Homo sapiens: one gene and its partners. The protein of the gene in region 1 interacts with the protein of each later gene in a pairwise test. Each region holds a gene or a part of one and is shown on either strand. Other genes may lie near its edges.

Evidence for each region. The genes of interacting proteins can lie anywhere in the genome.
Region 2: the proteins of MIPOL1 (region 1) and SSX3 interact in binary tests that used the Homo sapiens proteins (3 or more experiments, as listed by UniProt).
Region 3: the proteins of MIPOL1 (region 1) and PAX6 interact in binary tests that used the Homo sapiens proteins (3 or more experiments, as listed by UniProt).
Region 4: the proteins of MIPOL1 (region 1) and FBF1 interact in binary tests that used the Homo sapiens proteins (3 or more experiments, as listed by UniProt).

Annotation. Positions count from the first base shown.
Region 1 is NC_000014.9:37,494,479-37,499,204, forward strand, and holds part of MIPOL1 (mirror-image polydactyly gene 1 protein), read left to right. Parts: intron 1-4,726.
Region 2 is NC_000023.11:48,353,524-48,359,048, reverse strand, and holds the start of SSX3 (protein SSX3), read left to right. Parts: upstream 1-2,345; 5' UTR 2,346-2,415; intron 2,416-3,779; 5' UTR 3,780-3,799; coding exon 3,800-3,868; intron 3,869-4,302; coding exon 4,303-4,417; intron 4,418-4,954; coding exon 4,955-5,050; intron 5,051-5,525. UniProt on the Homo sapiens protein: Could act as a modulator of transcription.
Region 3 is NC_000011.10:31,804,443-31,809,168, reverse strand, and holds part of PAX6 (paired box protein Pax-6), read left to right. Parts: intron 1-1,546; exon of another isoform or gene 1,547-1,879; intron 1,880-2,243; 5' UTR 2,244-2,271; coding exon of another isoform or gene 2,272-2,320; intron 2,321-2,706; coding exon of another isoform or gene 2,707-2,757; coding exon 2,758-2,767; intron 2,768-3,167; exon of another isoform or gene 3,168-3,780; intron 3,781-4,127; exon of another isoform or gene 4,128-4,311; intron 4,312-4,726. UniProt on the Homo sapiens protein: Transcription factor with important functions in the development of the eye, nose, central nervous system and pancreas. Required for the differentiation of pancreatic islet alpha cells.
Region 4 is NC_000017.11:75,920,163-75,924,888, reverse strand, and holds part of FBF1 (fas-binding factor 1), read left to right. Parts: intron 1-1,247; coding exon 1,248-1,703; intron 1,704-2,842; coding exon 2,843-2,944; intron 2,945-3,328; coding exon 3,329-3,417; intron 3,418-3,586; coding exon 3,587-3,645; intron 3,646-4,459; coding exon 4,460-4,615; intron 4,616-4,726. UniProt on the Homo sapiens protein: Keratin-binding protein required for epithelial cell polarization. Involved in apical junction complex (AJC) assembly via its interaction with PARD3. Required for ciliogenesis.

The DNA of each region.
Region 1 (4,726 bases):
ACCTTCAGCAGAAAAAACTTGACACGCTTGAGAATCTGAATGCCTAGCTAAAAGGTGAGGAAGGAGGTAGAGAGGTCAGTGATGCAGGGCTTTATAGACCACAGCAAGTATAGAAGAGGTTTCCAGTGCAGACATAAAGACTGTAGGTTCAAATTCTGGCTCTGCTACATGTATTAAATTACTTATCTCTGTTTCCATTTGTATCAGTAAAAAAAGGAATATTAATAAGACTTCTCATGCAAGTTGTGACATTTAGTGAGTTAACATATAGCATTTATTATTTTTAAAGACTGTTTTCTGAATGCAAGGACATGCTATTGCAGGTTTTTAAGTGACATTGTCTACTTCCATCTTTTTAAAAAGATCATGTCCATTGCTTGGGAAAGCCTTGATGGTAATTAACAGGTTTCCAAGGTATTTTGAATGCTAAGCAGCTTTTGAACTTGCGGGTACAATCCAAACATGTCCATCTGAGAGAAAAATCAAAATCAGGTATAAATTTGCCCCCTAAAAATTAAATGATAGAAGACTAGAAAGTGAGGAGTGATTAGGAAATTAAATCAGGATGCTCATAATTTTCATAATGGTGAGACTTTTAAAACTTAATCATTGATTCTTTTTTTTTCTAGGTAATTTTTCTTTTTTTTTTTTTTAATATTTTTTTTATTATACTTTAAGTTTTAGGGTACATGGCACATTGTGCAGGTTAGTTACATATGTATACATGTGCCATGCTGGTGCGCTGCACCCACTAACTCGTCATCTAGCATTAGGTATATCTCCCAATGCTATCCCTCCCCCCTCCCCCCACCCCACCACAGTCCCCAGAGTGTGATGTTCCCCTTCCTGTGTCCATGTGATCTCATTGTTCAATTCCCACCTATGAGTGAGACTATGCGGTGTTTGGTTTTTTGTTCTTGCGATAGTTTACTGAGAATGATGATTTCCAATTTCATCCATGTCCCTACAAAGGACATGAACTCATCCTTTTTTATGGCTGCATAGTATCCCATGGTGTATATGTGCCACATTTTCTTAATCCAGTCTATCATTGTTGGACATTTGGGTTGGTTCCAAGTCTTTGCTATTGTGAATAGTGCCACAATAAACATACGTGTGCATGTGTCTTTATAGCAGCATGATTTATAGTCCTTTGGGTATATACCCAGTAATGGGATGGCTGGGTCAAATGGTATTTCTAGTTCTAGATCCCTGAGGAATCGCCACACTGTCTTCCACAATGGTTGAACTAGTTTACAGTCCCACCAACAGTGTAAAAGTGTTCCTATTTCTCCACATCCTCTCCAGCACCTGTTTCCTAACTTTTTAATGATTGCCATTCTAACTGGTGTGAGATGGTATCTCATTGTGGTTTTGATTTGCATTTCTCTGATGGCCAGTGATGATGAGCATTTTTTCATGTGTTTTTTGGCTGCATAAATGTCTTCTTTTGAGAAGTGTCTGTTCATGTCCTTCGCCCACTTTTTGATGGGGTTGTTTGTTTTTTTCTTGTAAATTTGTTTGAGTTCATTGTAGATTCTGGATATTAGCCCTTTGTCAGATGAGTAGGTTGTGAAAATTTTATCCCATTTTGTAGGTTGCCTGTTCACTCTGATGGTAGTTTCTTTTGCTGTGCAGAAGCTCTTTAATTAGGTATTGTTGGGACGTATTTCAAAATAATAAGAGCTATCTATGACAAACCCACAGCCAATATCATACTGAATGGGCAAAAACTGGAAGCATTCCCTTTGAAAACTGGCACAAGACAGGGATGCCCTCTCTCACCACTCCTATTCAACATAGTGTTGGAAGTTCTGGCCAGGGCAATTAGGCAGAAGAAGGAAATAAAGGGTATTCAATTAGGAAAAGAGGAAGTCAAATTGTCCCTGTTTGCAGACGACATGATTGTATATCTAGAAAACCCCATTGTCTCAGCCCAAAACCTCCTTAAGCTGATAAGCAACTTCAGCAAAGTCTCAGGATACAAAATCAATGTACAAAAATCACAAGCATTCTTATACACCAATAACAGACAAACAGAGAGCCAAATCATGAGTGAACTCCCATTCACAATTGCTTCAAAGAGAATAAAATACCTAGGAATCCAACTTACAAGGGATGTGAAGGACCTCTTCAAGGAGAACTACAAACCACTGCTCAATGAAATAAAAGAGGATACAAACAAATGGAAGAACATTCCATGCTCATGGGTAGGAATAATCAATATCGTGAAAATGGCCATACTGCCCAAGGTAATTTACAGATTCAATGCCATCCCCATCAAGCTACCAATGACTTTCTTCACAGAATTGGAAAAAACTACTTTAAAGTTCGTATGGAACCAAAAAAGAGTCTGCATCGCCAAGTCAATCCTAAGCCAAAAGAACAAAGCTGGAGGCATCACACTACCTGACTTCAAACTATACTACAAGGCTACAGTAACCAAAACAGCATGGTACTGGTACCAAAACAGAGATATAGATCAATGGAACAGAACAGAGCCCTCAGAAATAACACCGCATAGATCTGATCTTTGACAAACCTGAGAAAAACAGGCAATGGGGAAAGGATTCCCTATTTAATAAATGGTGCTGGGAAAACTGGCTAGCCATATGTAGAAAGCTGAAACTGGATCCCTTCCTTACACCTTATACAAAAATCAATTCAAGATGGATTAAAGACTTAAACGGTAGACCTAAAACCATAAAAACCCTAGAAGAAAACCTAGGCATCACCATTCAGGACATAGGCATGGGCAAGGACTTCATGTCTAAAACACCAAAAGCAATGGCAACAAAAGACAAAATTGACAAATGGGATCTAATCATTGATTCTTAATATGTAATTGGTTACGGTATACTGGTTACTGCTTTAGGCATGATAGGCAAATGCTGAATTCCCAAACGAAGCTGTCTCACTGAGTTTTAAATTAGGCCATATATGTAAAGTTAAAATATAAGGGAATGGAGTAGGCTAAGATTTTTTAAACAGTTTACAAAAAGCATTGCCATTAAAGAAACAATGATAAATTGAACTTTATTTAAATTGAGAACTTACCTTCATCAAAAGACAGCATTAAGAGTCAGGCATGGTGGCATATGCCCATAGTCCGAGCTACTCAGCAGGCTGAGGCAGGAGGACTGTTTGAGCCCAGGAGTTCAAGGTCAGCCTGGAAAACATAGTGAGAACTTGTCTCAACCAATCAATAATATACACATACATAAGACAATACGAAGAGAATGAAACATCACTGCATCCATATTACAATAACTAAAGTTAAAAGCATTTGACAGTGCCATTCTGAGGGAGGATATAAAGCAATTGAAACTCATATTTTGCTGATGGGAGTACAAATTGGTACAACTAATTTGGAAGACTATTAGCAGCATCTAAATCTAAATCAGCATCTATTATCATTGTACTAAATCTGAAAATAATGCATACCCTTTGGAGAAATTCTACTTTACACATGAATACCTAGGTCCATCAAAAGACATGTACAGGAATATCCATAGCAACAACTGTGGACAGTTAAATAAGTTACGGCATATGTATATAACAGAATATTTTATAGCAATAAAAAGCAATGAATTATATGCAACAGCAAGGTGAACTTCACTTACCAATTGTTGAGGAAAATAAGCCAGACAAAAAGTTTAAAAATAGGCAATTTACATTTTGATAAAGGTTGGATTAGTACTTACCTTTTGGGGAGGGGAAAAAATGGGAGGGAACACTGGGGGGTCTTCTAGATTTCTGCATTTGTTCTGTATTTTGTTCTTCACATTTTTTCAAGCTGAATACTTTGTATATATGCACTTTGTGTAATTTAAAACGTAATTAACAATTAAAATATAACTAATGTTTTAAATATAAAGAACATAAACAAGTACCTTTTTTAAGGTTTAGCTTTTAGTTTGTTTCTTCTTTTCTTTCTTTCTTTCTTGCATCTTTCATGGAGATAAAGAGGGTGAGCTGAAGAAAATTGGAACTTGGAACAGACAAGAATGCAGAAAGTGAGAGGACACAGAAAAAATAGTAAAATGGGCAAGAGACAGCCTTTAAGCATATGGGTTGGTAGAAAAATCTGAGAAGAAATGAAGTAGGGATAGTTAGATTAATAACAATGTGCAAACCATGAAAAAAGGTATTTTTTGCACTCTACAAATGTGGCACTACACACTATTCTAATTTTCTGTGTAGTAACCAGTTGACCAGCGCTTAGTAACAGTCCGTATTCTTAGGGGTTTGAATCCTGAAGTGGTTTCATTTGGTATGCTGACTGTCCTTGTTTCATATCCATCCTAGTTCTATGGGACGCCTTCTCCAAAATAAGCATACTGTAAAGGCTTATAGATAACTTAAACTAAAAGAGGAAATTTATAATTACTTTGAACAGTTTTAAAGAAAGTATCAGGCTAGATATTAGGACAATGCCAAAGTTCACTAACTAGCTTTTTGCAGGTTTAATAATGATATTGCTTTCCTTCCCATTATCAATCTATATTATATAGTTAAGTTGTTTTACTTCAAATGTCTCCAATCGACATTTCCTTTGTATGCATATACTGAAATGATATTTAATAAAAAAGAACATCTCCTGTGTGGAGTTTAAATTTCTCTTATTAAATATTTATATTTTCAAAATGTCTTTATTTAATTGAGTGAGGTGCTTGGTGCCATTTCAAAATAACCTCAGGTGGTAGGTGTAATGACATATCAAAGA
Region 2 (5,525 bases), on another chromosome or scaffold:
TGCACTCCATCCTGGGCAACCAGAGTGAACCTCTGACTCAAATAATAATAATAATAATAATTCTGTTCCTTTTATGGCAGTTACAACATCAGAAGGTAGCTTCATGGGTTCACTTCTCACGATAATACCCATTTTTTTTCTGCATTTTCAGCAAGATTTTCTTGTTCTAAAACCTCAAGGGCTGCGATGGTCACTCAGCAGCCTAGTGGATTGCCACCGTATGTGGACCCATGTTCCCCTGGCTTAATGCTCAGCATTAAGCCATCATCCCACAGCACTGCAGACACAGAGTATCAACCTCCAGAAAGGGCCTTTCCAAGGAGGACTATATCAGGTCTGACATTTTCATGATCAACAGCCAGCCATCTACCAGTTCTGGCCAATCCTATCTGTATTTCATCAGCAATGAACAGAACCAAGCTGGGAGCACGAGATGGGACAAGGGTAAGTTAAAATACCACAAAGCTCCCTGTTCTTACGGAGATTCCGCTGATCTCTCTCTTGCTCTTTCTTTCTTTTTTTTTTTTTTTTCAGTCTTGCTCTGTCGCTCAAGCTGGAGTGCAGTGGTGTGATCTCAGCTCAATGCAACCTCGGCTTCCCAGGTTCAAATCATTGAGTGAGCCCAGGAGGTCAAGACCAACCTGGGAAACATAGCAAAAGGCAGGGTAGTGCATGCCTGTAGTCCCAAGGCCGAGGCGGGAGAATCACTTGAGTCCCGGAGGTAGAGACCAGCCTGGACAACATAGCGAAACTGTCTCTAGTAGAAAAATTAAAAATATTAGTGGGGGCGGGGTGGTGTGAACCTGTAGTCCCGAGGCCAAGGCAGGACGATTGCTTGAGCCTAGGAGGTTGAGGCCAGCCTGGCCAACATAGTGAAACCCCATTTCTACTAACAACAAGAACAACAAAAAAATAGCGTGGGTGGGGTGGCTCACTCCTGTAGTTTTGAGGCCAAGGTGGGAGGATTGCTTGAGCCCAGGAGGTTGATACCAGCCTGGCCAACAAAGCGATAGCCTGCCTCTCCTAAAATAAATAAATAAATAAATAAATAAATAAATGAAAATAAAAATGAGCAGGGCAGAATGGCACACGCCTATAGTCCTGAGGCCAAGATGAAAGCATCATCTGAGCCTAAGAGATTGAGGCCAGCCTGGGCAACATATCGAAACCTGGTTTCTACTAAAACGAAACAAAACAAAACAAAAAATAGCTTGGGCAGGGTGGTGCGTGGCTGCGGTCCTGAGGCAGGAGGATCCCTTGAGCCCAGGAGCTTGATGCCGGCCTGGCCAACATAGGGAAACATGGTTTCTACTAAAAAAAAAAAAAAAAAAAAAAAAAAAATCGTAGGCAGGGTAGTGCATGCCTGTAGTCTCGAGGCCATGGTGGAAGAATGCCTTGAGCCCAGGACGATGAGACCAACCTGGCCAATGAGACCAGCCTGGCCAACATAGCAAAACCTGGTTTCTACTTAAAAAAAAAAAAAAAAAAAAAAGCGTAGGCAGGGTGGTGAATGCCTGTAGTCCCGAGGCCGAGGTGGGAGGATCGCTTGAGCCCAGGACGTCAAGACCAGCCTGGCCAACACAGCAAAACCTTCTCTATTAAAAAATCAAAAAATAAAAAATATTAGTGGGGGTGGGGTGGTTTGCGCCTGTAGTCCCGAGACAGAGGCGGGAGGATTGGCCAAGGCAGATGTAACCAATACCACAATCACATCCCATAAGTAAATACATTTTCCTCTCTCCAGGGCTACAGGTAAAGGATGGTAATTCTGCACACCACACTTAGATTCCCTTTCAAAAATGTAAGCAGAGGTTGGAGGGCCTTGGACTGTTTTTTCAGTGGCAACAGATATAGAAGCCACTGAAGAATGAACTCCACGACTAATTATAGCAAACCTCCGCAAATGTGCTAGTTTGGAAAACATTGTGGCTTTCAAGTAGAAAAATCACAGATTGACTATTTTTTTCTTCCCACAGTTCAGACTAGAATCCAGATTTTTAACCCAAGATCCAGGAACAGTCTTCAGAGAGATCAAAATCTGACGGCGCCTGAGGACCACCCACTTTTTCGCAGTGGCGACAAGGTGTGGCTGGAGGAGGAGACATTATTCTGCAATGTCGCTGCCCAAGGATGATGGACCAATCAGGGCAGTTAGTGAACTCCATCTGGCCAATTAGAAGTCAGAACAGTAGGCGGAACAAGCGAAGCGGATGTGGCTTCTATCAGTCCCGGCTCCAGGGACACAACCTTCTCAAAGTGGGGGTGGAGACTCTAATTTTCCCGCCTAAAGCATCCCCTGGGATTCGCTACTTTAAGTTCAGAGTACGCATGCTCTGATTTTCTCTCTCTTTCGATTCTTCCATACTCAAGAGTACGCACGGTCTGATTTTCTCTTTGGATTCTTCCAAAATCAGAGTAAGAATACACTGATTTTCTTTTTCCATTCTTCCTACCCCTCCCCTCCTCCGTGGTGCATTTGCTATCTAGTTTTAATAAGGAGTGTATATGAGGCAGGCCGCCATCTTAAATCTTTCCTGTCAGTTTCTAACCGCCATCTCAAATCTTTCCTGTCAGTTTCTAACTTTTTCAGGTATGGGATTTTTCCTAGGAACTCTGTAGTAACTTAAGAAATTTGGGCCTGGGGTGGTGGCTTACACTTGTAATCCCTGCACTTTTGGAAGCCACAGCTGGTGGATTGCCTGAACCCAAGAGGCGGAGGTTGCAGTGAGCCATGATCACGCCAGTGCACTCCCGACTGGGCAACAGAGCGAGACCCTGTCTGAAAAAAAAAATCACTCAAATCTTTCCTGCTGGGCTCAAGTGATCTTCTCACCTAGGCCTTGGGACTACAGGCGCGCACCACCCCGCTTCTGCTAAATTTTGTTTGTTTGTTTTTTTTAGTAGAGATGGTTTTGCTACGTTTGTGAGCCTGGTCTCAAGCTCCTGGGCTAAGGCGATCCGCCCACCTTGGCCTTCCAAAGTGCTGGGATGGTACAGGCCTGCTCCACCAACCCCAGCTAACTTTTTGTTTATTTTGTAGACGGGGGTTTTGCTGTGTTTCCCAGCCGGGTCTCGACCTCCTGGGCTCAAGTGACCTGCACGCCTCGGCCTCCCAAAGTGCTGGGATTACAGGCCTGAGCCACTGCGCCTGGCTGATTGCTGCAACTTGAAATGCCCCACATTCTCTCTAAGTGATGGCGGGCTCTTGTAGTCTCAGAAATTCTAGCTCTCTTCGTTCTAATAACTTACAAATCACCCAGTAATAGCCTCTGAACACATTCATATTAGCGATGCTCATTTCTCTTCAGCAGAACAGAACCCCCCATCCCTCTGCCTGATCAGATCCATCACCAAAGAGACCACGTTATCTCTGGGACTAACTTCCCTTCCTTTATTTATTGAGCGGGGGTGTCAGCATGCCCCACTGAATAAAATTACACAGTCATGTCCCTGCCTCCCCAACAAGGGTCCATACATCTTTCAGGGGAAGCCTAGCTCCAGGGAAATTACTAACAACATTAGCCAACCCCCTCCCAAAGACTCAAGGCTGCTTTGCCCATAGGAAACCTGTCATCCCCTATCAATACTTCTCCCAGAGACCCCTGGTTCCTGGTTTTCGTCTGATTTCTCCCCATATCCTTACTCAGGGACAGATAAGCCCCGGATGGAGAAATGCAGCACCTGATTCCAGGTGACTGAGTGGCCGGCCTTCACTGATTTCTCCCTCCACAAGACCAAAGGTCCTGCGGCTGGAAAGTCTCAATCTGTTTCTCTTGCAGGTCAGACTACTCCCTGTGCCATGAACGGAGATGACACCTTTGCAAGGAGACCCACGGTTGGTGCTCAAATACCAGAGAAGATACAAAAGGTGAGGTGACCTAGAGGGAGCAGAGTAGTGACCCAGGGGACAGTGTGGGGTGACCCGGTTTCTGAGGAGGGGAGGACAGAGATACTGGAGACAAGGAGCAGGGTCTCAGGGGAGATCTGGACCCTTGGGAGCCTCCCACCCTCACTCTGTCATCACCTAGCATCCCTGGAGACAAGTCTGTGACCTTGCACTACATTTGGTGACTCTCAGTCCATTCTGGAAGGTGGGAGGAGAGCCAGCCAGCAGCATTAAAGCCCGACAGTGTGGCAGGGGTGAAGCTAGGAAGGTCCCTCATGTTCTGTCAGTTAGCCGTGGCATCAACCAGGAAGGATTATCCCCACTTCCCAGATCCAGCACACAGGAAGCGACTCCAGCTGAATGGCAGACATGCCTAGCTGAGTCCCTGCCATAATTCCTTTTTTTTTTTTTTGTAGGCCTTCGATGATATTGCCAAATACTTCTCTAAGGAAGAGTGGGAAAAGATGAAAGTCTCGGAGAAAATCGTCTATGTGTATATGAAGAGAAAGTATGAGGCCATGACTAAACTAGGTAACAGAAAGTTCTAGGTACAGACAAGTCTGGGGACACATGAGCATCCCTTTTCCTGCTTTGGCTATTTCTTAGGCTGCAGAAAGTACCTCACATTTTCCTTTTGTGTAGGGAAAAATCGCAAGGCAGCTTCTGGGTGTTCTGCTCTTCTATATCCTGTCAGGGCTGAGGGCAGTGACTGGCCACAGTGGAGCTCATACCTGGATCCTGCACGTTTCTCTCTCTTAGGCTTCTGTTCTGATGAGCCCAACTGTCTCTGTGGCATCCCGGCAACCATCCTACCCCCACCCCACACACACCCACTCTACCTTCTCTCGGCTTGTCTCTTTCTTTTTTTTTTTTTTTTGTTTGAGTCAGTCTGAATCTGTCACCTAGGCTAGAGTGCAGTAGTGCAATCATAGCTTACTGCAGCCTTGAATTCCTGGCCTCAAGCAATCCTCCAGCCTTAGCCTCCCAAAGTGTTGGTACTACAGACATGAGCCACCGTACCAGGCCCAAGCTTGTCTCTTAAGGAATAAACATTTTGCTTCTTTCTAGGTTTCAAGGCCATCCTCCCATCTTTCATGCGTAATAAACGGGTCACAGACTTCCAGGGGAATGATTTTGATAATGACCCTAACCGTGGGAATCAGGGTGAGTAGATGGGAAGGGGCTGGAAAGGGTCTCCTCAAGCCCAATTGCTTTTCAGCTCAGCTACCTGGGAAAGAGCCTCAGGCATTTGTTCCCTCATACACATCGGGGCAGAGTGAAAAAAAAAATTGCATGCAGAAAGTTAACTACAGAGGTCATTCATATAAAATTTTAAAACATGCAAAAGAAGAATATATATTTTTATGGATAATAAGTAAATGGTAAATGTATACAAACATGAATGTGAATAAAAAGCCATCAAACTAAGGTGACTGGCTGTAAGTGGAGGAGGGAGGGAGGGCAGGGATTGCTGAGTGCTGCACAGACAGCTTCAGCTGTGACTTGTTGATAGTGTGTTTTGTTTGTTTTTGTTTTTGAGATGGAGTTTCACTCTTCTCGGCCAGGGTGGAGTGCAATAAGGCAATCTCAGCTCACTCCAACTTTCACCTCCTGGGTTCAAGTGATTCTTCTGCCTCAG
Region 3 (4,726 bases), on another chromosome or scaffold:
ATAATTGCTAATTACTCTTTTGGCTGGGGGCGGGAGGACCGAGAGCTCTCCCCTTTACCTCAGTTAAAGAGTTTGGGGATGGAATTTGAGAATTAAGTAATTAAAAAAAGAACAGCATTTGAAAACTGAGGCTTGTGTTGGGGACAGAGAGGTGGGGGCAGTGACCACTCTCTTGTGGTCCAAGGCTGGGGCGACTCCAAAATGTCTGGAGACTCCTTCGTTCAGGATGTGGTTCTATGGCCCCAGCGAGGCCGTACAGAGCCTCGGGCTGAGCTGGGGGGCTGAGGCTGCAGTTGGGGGTCTGACCTCTCCGGTGCACAGGACTGCTTCCGGGTGTCGATGTGCCCCACTTCCCGGGTTGCTTCTGCACTTAGTGTTCACGTTTACTTAAGTAATTAGATAGCTTCTTAGCGAGAGGGAAGTGGGAATGGAGCAGAACTGGAATTTGAAATACTACCACCTTCCCAGCTGCTTCGAAAACTAATCAACGAGGCCTCTTTGTGCTCAGCTACTGAATTTAAAAAAAAATGGTATCAAGAAGTTACAAGCCAGGATGGGAGCATTCTGTTGTGATTGTGCACAGCGTGGGTTACAAAGTGGAGTTCTGGAAGTTTTACCCCTCCTAGGGGAATTCCATTCCCCATCTCCCCACCTACTACTCCTTTGCAGCTTCAGGGTCCTGCATTTGTTGGGGTGGGGTATTTTGCATTAGAGTTGGAGATTTTGCCTATCCAGGGCATGGCTATGGGTGCCGGGACTGAGAGACAGGAAGGAAGCATTGGAGAGCCAACCTAGATAAGGGTAACTAGTAACCCTCTGCTGTGGCCAGTATTTACCCAATGCTGAGAAAAAGTCCTCATTTTCGGTTTATTTTTATGGATTTAAGCTGTCTACCAAGTAGTTAAAAAGTAGACCAGGAATGGCCTTGTAGAGTAAAATGTGCTTCTTGAAATTCTTTGCTTGCAGGCAGGCAGATCAATAATCACCATAGGTAAAACAGAAAAAATAATGCATTTAAAAAAAAACAGAGAGAAATGATGCTGTGACTGTTTTGTTATTTTACCTCTTTTTGGGGGGCAGACCTCTTGAATGGGCTCTTTATTGTAACTCTCTCTTCCCAATTGAGCTCCCCACGGTGCCGTTGTATCTTTTTACAGCCCCTAACAACTCACACCAGTAACACAATTACCTCCAGATATTTACAACAAGAAATTACTTTTCTATTTTCTCCACTCACCCAAAAGACTTTTTTTTTTTTTCCTTTGGGAAAGGTAGGGAGGTGTTCGTACGGGAGCAGCCTCGGGGACCCCTGCACTGGGTCAGGGCTTATGAAGCTAGAAGCGTCCCTCTGTTCCCTTTGTGAGTTGGTGGGTTGTTGGTACATTTGGTTGGAAGCTGTGTTGCTGGTTAGGGAGACTCGGTTTTGCTCCTTGGGTTCGAGGAAAGCTGGAGAATAGAAGCCATTGTTTGCCGTCTGTCGGCTTTGTCGACCACGCTCACCCCCTCCTGTTCGTACTTTTTAAAGCAGTGAGGCGAGGTAGACAGGGTGTGTCACAGTACAGTTAAAGGGGTGAAGATCTAAACGCCAAAAGAGAAGTTAATCACAATAAGTGAGGTTTGGGATAAAAAGTTGGGCTTGCCCCTTTCAAAGTCCCAGAAAGCTGGGAGGTAGATGGAGAGGGGGCCATTGGGAAGTTTTTTTGGTGTAGGGAGAGGAGTAGAAGATAAAGGGTAAGCAGAGTGTTGGGTTCTGGGGGTCTTGTGAAGTTCCTTAAGGAAGGAGGGAGTGTGGCCCTGCAGCCCTCCCAAACTGCTCCAGCCTATGCTCTCCGGCACCAGGAAGTTCCAAGGTTCCCTTCCCCTGGTCTCCAAACTTCAGGTATTCCTCTCCCCTCACACCCCTTCAACCTCAGCTCTTGGCCTCTACTCCTTACTCCACTGTTCCTCCTGTTTCCCCCTTCCCCTTTTCCTGGTTCTTTATATTTTTGCAAAGTGGGATCCGAACTTGCTAGATTTTCCAATTCTCCCAAGCCAGACCAGAGCAGCCTCTTTTAAAGGATGGAGACTTCTGTGGCAGATGCCGCTGAAAATGTGGGTGTAATGCTGGGACTTAGAGTTTGATGACAGTTTGACTGAGCCCTAGATGCATGTGTTTTTCCTGAGAGTGAGGCTCAGAGAGCCCATGGACGTATGCTGTTGAACCACAGCTTGATATACCTTTTTCTCCTTCTGTTTTGTCTTAGGGGGAAGACTTTAACTAGGGGCGCGCAGATGTGTGAGGCCTTTTATTGTGAGAGTGGACAGACATCCGAGATTTCAGGCAAGTTCTGTGGTGGCTGCTTTGGGCTCAAAACCCACAAACAGTCAAAACAAACTATTTCAGTATGCTTCTTCACTATAGTTCAGATAGAAGAAAATAAATCAAAATTGGGGCATCGCTTCTACTGATTAAAGGGTTAACTGCTAAAGAATGTAGGGGAAACAGATTGGGGATATTCCAGTACTTTGTTTCAAGCCCCAAAGGGTAGATTTTGTATGCACTGCAGGGCAGAGCTGAGTGACCCTCAGATCGCCCCAAGAGGTTGAGTGGATCAATTCCTAAAGAACGGAGATTCTCCTGTCCTAGCCCCAGGTCCACCTCGGTTGGGAGTTCAGGCCTACCTGATGCAGCTGCCCGAGGATTAACTCCTATTTTCTTGCTAACAGAGCCCCATATTCGAGCCCCGTGGAATCCCGCGGCCCCCAGCCAGAGCCAGCATGCAGAACAGTAAGTGCCTCTGGTCTTTCTGGGACTTCGGGCTCGGGGTGCGCGGACCCGAGGGTCAGGGGAGGACACAGGGACTCGCGACGCCCGCGCTGGCCCGGCCGCCGACCGACTGAGGCCCGGGGACCTGCGGCGGCTGCTCCCCGCTCCGCGCCCGGCAGCCCGGGAGGGGAGGGCGTTTGCTTGGCTCTTCTCGATACTGGAGAAGCAGGGGCTGGGCCCTTAAGAACAGCCCGCCCGAGTTTTCGAAGCTGCGGTAGAGAAACCCCATCCCCCCCAAATCCTGTAACTCACACCCCCTCTCGCCCCTGCCCGGGCTCTGACCCCGGAGAGAGGGGCTGGGCTGATCAGGGCGGGGCGAAGTCTTCTCCTAGTTGAGCGAGAAGGAGGCCCCTTTGGGCTTAGCCAAGACTGAAAGTCTCCACCAACCCGGCGGGGTTGGGGGCTTCTCTCCCCAAGTCACTCTCAGGGCAGCTCCTCCCCTCCTCACCCCACTACGGGCCTAGAAGGGATGGGGAGAGGAGCCCCCAGGCCTGCAGCAGGGTAGGGGTGGTAAACTCGCTGTTACAGGGCGCGGGAGAGAGCACGGTTTACTGGGTCTGGTAAGGAGGTGCCCAGGAATTGGAAAATCCCTGCCCTGGCAACTGCAATTGCTTGGGTCCTGATAGTCCCAGGCCCAGAGCGCTTTTGATACTTATGGCCCTTGTACCTCCCTGCTTTCCTCTGCCCAGACCCCGTGGGGTCCCACCCACCTTCCTGTTCGTGGTGGGTGCTGGTACGCGGCAGGGCTAGTCTAGAGCTCCGACCTGGGAGCCTGGAGGCCCAGCGAAACCAGGCCCGGTTTGAGGTTACGGTTGAGGCACACGGCGTCGGGGCTCAACTGAACTCAAAGTGTGGAAAGGCCCGGGTCTTCCAGCAGCCTGCCCTGGCCGAACCACACAGGCTTAAGGAGGGTCCCCAGCACCTTATCCATCTGTTTTGGAAACGCCGGTCGCCCCCTGGTGCTTCCGGGGCTGGTAAGCGCGTAGCTGAGGAAAGGGCACAAAGGTGGCGAGCTTTGCGGGAGTAGTTGTGCAGAACCTGCCGGACCCCAGGGCTTGGCCGGTAGGCTCGCCTTCGGCGGCTGGGCTCTCCCCTTGGAGCTCAGACTCCCCAGCCGCAGGCTGTCTCTCGGGCGGGCCCCAGCCAGGGCGCGCAGCCCTGAGCGTTTGTCGCTGCGGCCCGGCTGGCAGGCCCCGAGGGGCGCGGGGTCGCGGGCCGGCCGGCAGGGCTTTGTGCCGCTCGTTCCCGGGTGTGCGCGAGGCGCGGAGCATCCAAATTGACACCATATGTTTTCCTATTAGTTGCTTCGCGGTCGAGTTCTAGGCGCATAATCATCGCCAGTGGGCGAGAGCGCCAGCAGTCCCTAGGGAAGGGACACAATGATTGAGGCTTAACCTCTGAAGGGGAATTTGGAGCTGCGCTTTCTCTCTGCCATTTCGATGCTGGGAGTGGCGCTCTGGCCCTGGCGTCTCCTGGGCAAGCACCAGCCGGCGGTATCTGCGGAGGTGGCTGGCACGTTGTTATTTTTTGAAATGAGTGAGGAGGGAGGTCTAGATTTAGGCGGCCTTACGCGCCCGCCTTGGCATTAGCAGACTGGGAATTGCCGTGGCTATGCCCGAAGTTTGGAAAGTCTCTCTCGGTCTCTTTCTGGGACAGCCTTTCTTTTTCCGGGAAGCTTCCTGTGCCTAGAGGTGGGGCTCTGTAGCTGGAGGGGTAGATGGAACTTGCGAAGCAAAGGAAGGCAATAAAAGGAAGTTAGGAGAAACCGGAAACGTGGGCCAGGCCTTGCTCTGTTGGAGAAGCGGTGTCCCCGCAAAGTCCCTGCTTGCGCTGGTCCCGGCCGGAGCCCAGATCCCCCAAACGCCTGTCACTTCTCATCGAGTTGAGGCTCCGGCCCCCACCCGCGCCTTGGTGAGGGCC
Region 4 (4,726 bases), on another chromosome or scaffold:
GTTTACAAAAAAAAAAATTAAATCAGTGATAGGATTTTCTGAGTTTGGAGTTCTTTTGCCAGTATATATTTTAAACTTTGTATTTTGAAGTAATTTCAAACTTCAAAAGTCGGCTGGGTATGGTGGCTCATGCCTGTAATCTCAGCAGTTTGGGAGACCAAGGCAGGTGGATCACCTGAGGTCAGGAGTTCAAGACCAGCCTGGCCAACATGGTGAAACCCCGTCTCTGCTGAAAATACAAAAATTAGCTGGGCGTGGTGGTGGGCGCCTGTGATTCCAGCTACTCGGGAGGCTGAGGCAGGAGAATAGCTTGAATCCTAGAGGCGGAAGTTGTGGTGAGCTGAGATTGCACCACTCACTGCACTCCAGCCTGGGCAATAGAGCGAGACTCCGTCTCAAAAAAAAACTTCAGAAGTTGTAAGAACAGCACCAGGAGCCCCTCTCATCCTTTCCCAGGTTCAGCAGTTGTTCCCATTTGCCAGGTTGGCTTCTTCATCCTCTTTCTATCTGAATAGCTCTAAGCACATCGGCATTACTTCCCATACCCAGTACGTTCTTAACCCTGGGAACCTGCTGCCACTGGTCAGTGACAGATGAAGGCCACGGCCGAACAAATGAAGTAACTGTTGTTGGAAAACCTGGAAACCACTTGATCCAACTTATTATTATTTTTTTTAGACAGAGTCTCACTCTGTCGCCCAGGCTGGAGTGCAGTGGCATGATCTCGGCTTACCACAACCTCTGCCTCCCGGGTTCAAGCAATTCTCATGCCTCAGCCTCCCAAGTAGCTGGGATTACAGGCGCCCACCACCACACCTGACTAATTTTTTTGTGTTTTTAGTAGAGATGGGGTTTCACATGTTGGCCAGGCTGGTCTTGAACTCCTGGCCTTAAGCGATCTGCCCACCCTGGCCTCCCAAAGATCTGGGATTACAGACATGAGCCACCGTGCTCGGCCTGATTTTTCTTTAGACCTGTGTGCCCATGGCTGTCATTTGATCCTGTTCCTGTTCTCTGTGGGTAGAACTGTCCCTGGTTCATGTGATGGAAGTCAAGGTCTCTGTACTTCGTGGTGTTCTACAGACAGCACGTGGCCTGCCACCTGAGCCGGTCCAGGAGCCACTGCTCACTGGGCCTCAGCTGACTGTGCAGGGTCCCTGGGCATCGTGACGCCCAGCTGCAGGCTGCTAGGGGGCCACTGGGACTGGCTGTTTCCCCTGCCTGACACCCTCCTTTCTGTCTTGAAGTAGGTTCTTCGCAGACAGTGGCGCAGACCCCAAGGGAGAACCAGGCTCCAAACAGAGCCCTCCAATGGCTTCCAGCCCCATCCAGCCCAGGAAGGGAGGAGCTGACTGGTTGGGCCTCAAGGACGAGGACTTGGACCTGTTCCCTGCCTCACCCACCAGAGAGGCCCATCGGGAAAGTTCAGTGCCTGTCACGCCCTCAGTGCCTCCTCCTGCGAGCCAGCACTCCACGCCAGCTGGGCTGCCCCCCTCCAGGGCAAAGCCACCAACTGAAGGTGCAGGGTCCCCTGCCAAAGCCAGCCAGGCTTCCAAGCTGCGAGCCTCCAAGGAGGAGAAAGAGGACTGGCTGAGCCATGCCCTGTCTCGGAAGAAGTCCCAAGGCCTGGCCAGAGAGCAGCATGCTGGGACCTCTGAGGGCCTGCATTTGGCGGGGACAGCGGGCCATCCCCCTTCTGGCAGGTACTGACTTAGGCTGCTGTGGCTAGTAGGGGGAGGACTGGCTGGGGACTTGAGGAGCCCCTTTGCCCCTTCACCTGTTGCAGCCTCAGTCAGCAGTTGGGGAACAAGGCAGGGCGCCGTGGCCACAGAGGCCGCTTCTTGGCTTTGCTACTCTGCCTTTTAGGCACTGCAGAGAGAGCCTCTGGCTCCCAGGCTTGCCCCAGGGACATACCCAAGAAGGAGGGCTGTTGACATTCATGCCCTGACCGCCATGGGGACAGGTGCTAACTTGATCGAGGAGAAGACAGAGGGTCCCTGAGGTGGCAGACACACCGCTGCCCTGTCACAGCGCCCTCAGGCTGGAAGCCCCGGCATCCAAACAGCCGGTGCTTCTGCCGACTCCACTGAAGCGAGTATGGCGTGTGTGAGCTGAGATGTCCCTGTGCTCTTTGAGAGTGTTAGAGGAGACATAGTGGCCGAGAGGCGCCTCTTGGAGAAGCCCTTATCCGTGGGGCAGGATAGCGAGTGACCTCTGAAGGCAGGAAGGCACAAGGGGCCAGCAGGCTGGGGGAGTCCAGAGGAAGTGGTGAGATGTGCTGTGGCCAGAGCCCAGGGGAGTGAACTGGGCAATTTGTGACAGCCCAGGGACATCACCCTGTCCTGGGGTTGATGACAGGAGGGCAGTTTTGACTTTGACCTGAGGCCGAGGGGAAAGCTCAGGCCAAAACAGAAAAGAGCCTGTCTCTTCACTGACCCGTGAGCCGAGAAAGAGGTGGAAATAATGGGAAAGGGAGCCAGCCAGATTTGGTAGACTGAGCAGAATCCTAATCTAGAGCTGAGCCAAGTTAAGTGGACTGGAACAGGGCTCTGAACTTGAACTTGACTCCAGTGTCTATAACATTTCCGTTGTCACTGCTTGGACAGTGTCCATTCACTGCACCACTGTGGACATTGAGGCAGGAAGGGGGTACTGGAAGGGAAGAGATGCCCAGAAATCCCAGGAGCTCAGACGTGGGAGGAGAATGCCCCAAGACGGGATGGTGGAAGCAGGAGGAAGGGGGGCCACGAGCTTCACGTGTGAAGCCCGTCCTGGGCCCTGTCTTCATCCAGCCTGACCTGGGCCTTCTGTCACCTTCACCTTGAACGCTGCCTTTCCTCAGCCAACCTCTCACCAGCACACAAGGGCTTGAGCACGCAGCTGCTGGAGGGAGTTCTGGAACAACTGCACGAGAAAGACCGTGTGTCAGGCCTGGTGTCTCGGGGTAGGCCTGGGCTGCGGGCTGAGTGGGAATGAGAGCATGGTGGGCAGCACAGGCCTCTGTCCTGAGAGAGGGACACAGAGGCTGTTCACCCTGCCCCTGCCCCGTCCCCGTGTCCCACACAGAGGCTGCCCACCCTGCTCCGTCCCTGTGCCCTACACAGAGGCTGCCCACCCTGCCCCATCCCCGTGTCCCACCTAGAGGCTGCCCACCCTGCCCCGTCCCCGTGTCCCAGCAGAGGCTGCCCACCCTGCCCCATCCCCGTGTCCCACGTAGAGGCTGCCCACCCTGCCCCGTCCCCATGTCCCACCTAGAGGCTGCCCACCCTGCCCCGTCCCCGTGTCCCACACAGAGGCTGCTCACCATGCCCCATCCCTGTGTCCTCAGGTCCCCTGTGACTCAGAACCATGCCGCCTCAGCACTCCCTACAGGTTCCCCAAAGAGGGGAACAGCCCCTGGAGACCTCTCAGCCACTGGTTTGTTTTTTGTTTGCTGCTTCATTTGGGAGTTTAACCCTGGGTGAGGAAGAGGTGCTTTGAGCTTCCTTTGGGGTCCCTGGGACATGAGTTACACCAGCCCCTCCTGGACACTCGCAGGCCCAGTGCCCTGGGCCTCCTGTTCATTTCTCTGTTGTTGATGTTTCAGAGCCTGCCACGTGTTTCCCGAGCACCCAGAAACCCACAGAGCCTTCCGTGCCCGTCCAGGTAGGGGTGTGGGCAGACAGGTCTAGCTCAGGGCCTAGGGAGCAATTCTCCATGCCCAGGGGCAATACCCACAGTTTGACCTGACGACCTGCCAGGAAAAATGTGTCAAACATACCAAATGTGACGTCAGCCAGCTCCCCGGGCACCCCCCACTAGAACTTGCCTGAATTTCTAGCCTCGCTGCTCCTGGGCAGAGCTGGGTGTTAATTTGCCTACATCAGTGGGGAGTTTAAGGAGGCAGCCAGGCCGGGGAGCTGGGATGCTGCAGTCAGAAAGCAGGGCCGCAGGGTCCTGTTCTGTCAAGAAAGCCTCCTCCACCCTTGCCATCCTCCCACCACACCTCTGCCTCTGTTTCCCATGTGTGGCAGTCACCTGTGACACCTGGGCCTGGGAGGTGTGCCCCCCCCCCCCCCAGGAGTGTGTCCCTGGGAGATGGTGGGTAGGGGACAGCTCGTGGGAACCAGATTAGTGTCAACATGTGGGCTTCAGGCCTGACAGGAAAAGCCAGCATCAGCTTTTGTCATAGCGAAGACTCTGCTGGGGTTCAGCCATTTGTCTGGGAAGCCGGAGACCATGCTGGGGAGGAAGCTGTTCCGGAGGGTGGAGGGAGACATGCTCCTGACCAGATCTGCAAGGGGAGGTACACTGGGGACTGCTTAGCCGCAGTGACTGTTACTTTCCAAGGCCTTGGCCCCATCTGCAGCCACAGATCAGATGCAGGGAGGTCCAGTGAGCAGTGGGCCAGGAGGTAGCTGATCTCAGCTGGGCCCCTGTCCCCTCCCTAACTAGAAACACCTCTCTTCCTCTCCTCCAGCCCCTGCTCCCAGAGTCCCTGGCCCGGAGCCTGCTGCCGAGCACAGAATACCAGAAGCAGCTCCTGGCAGCACAGGTGCAACTTCAGTGCAGCCCCGCTGAGCTCCAGGCCGAGCTGCTGCATAGCCAGGCCCGGCTGGCAGAGCTGGAGGCCCAGGTGAGGGGCAGCGGGGCCGTTGGTGCTGGTGGCAGGGTTGCGACAGGAGGGGACACTGAGAGTGGCTGGAAGCTTCCCCAGGAGGGAGGAAGGGCTGTTGGCACAGGGCAG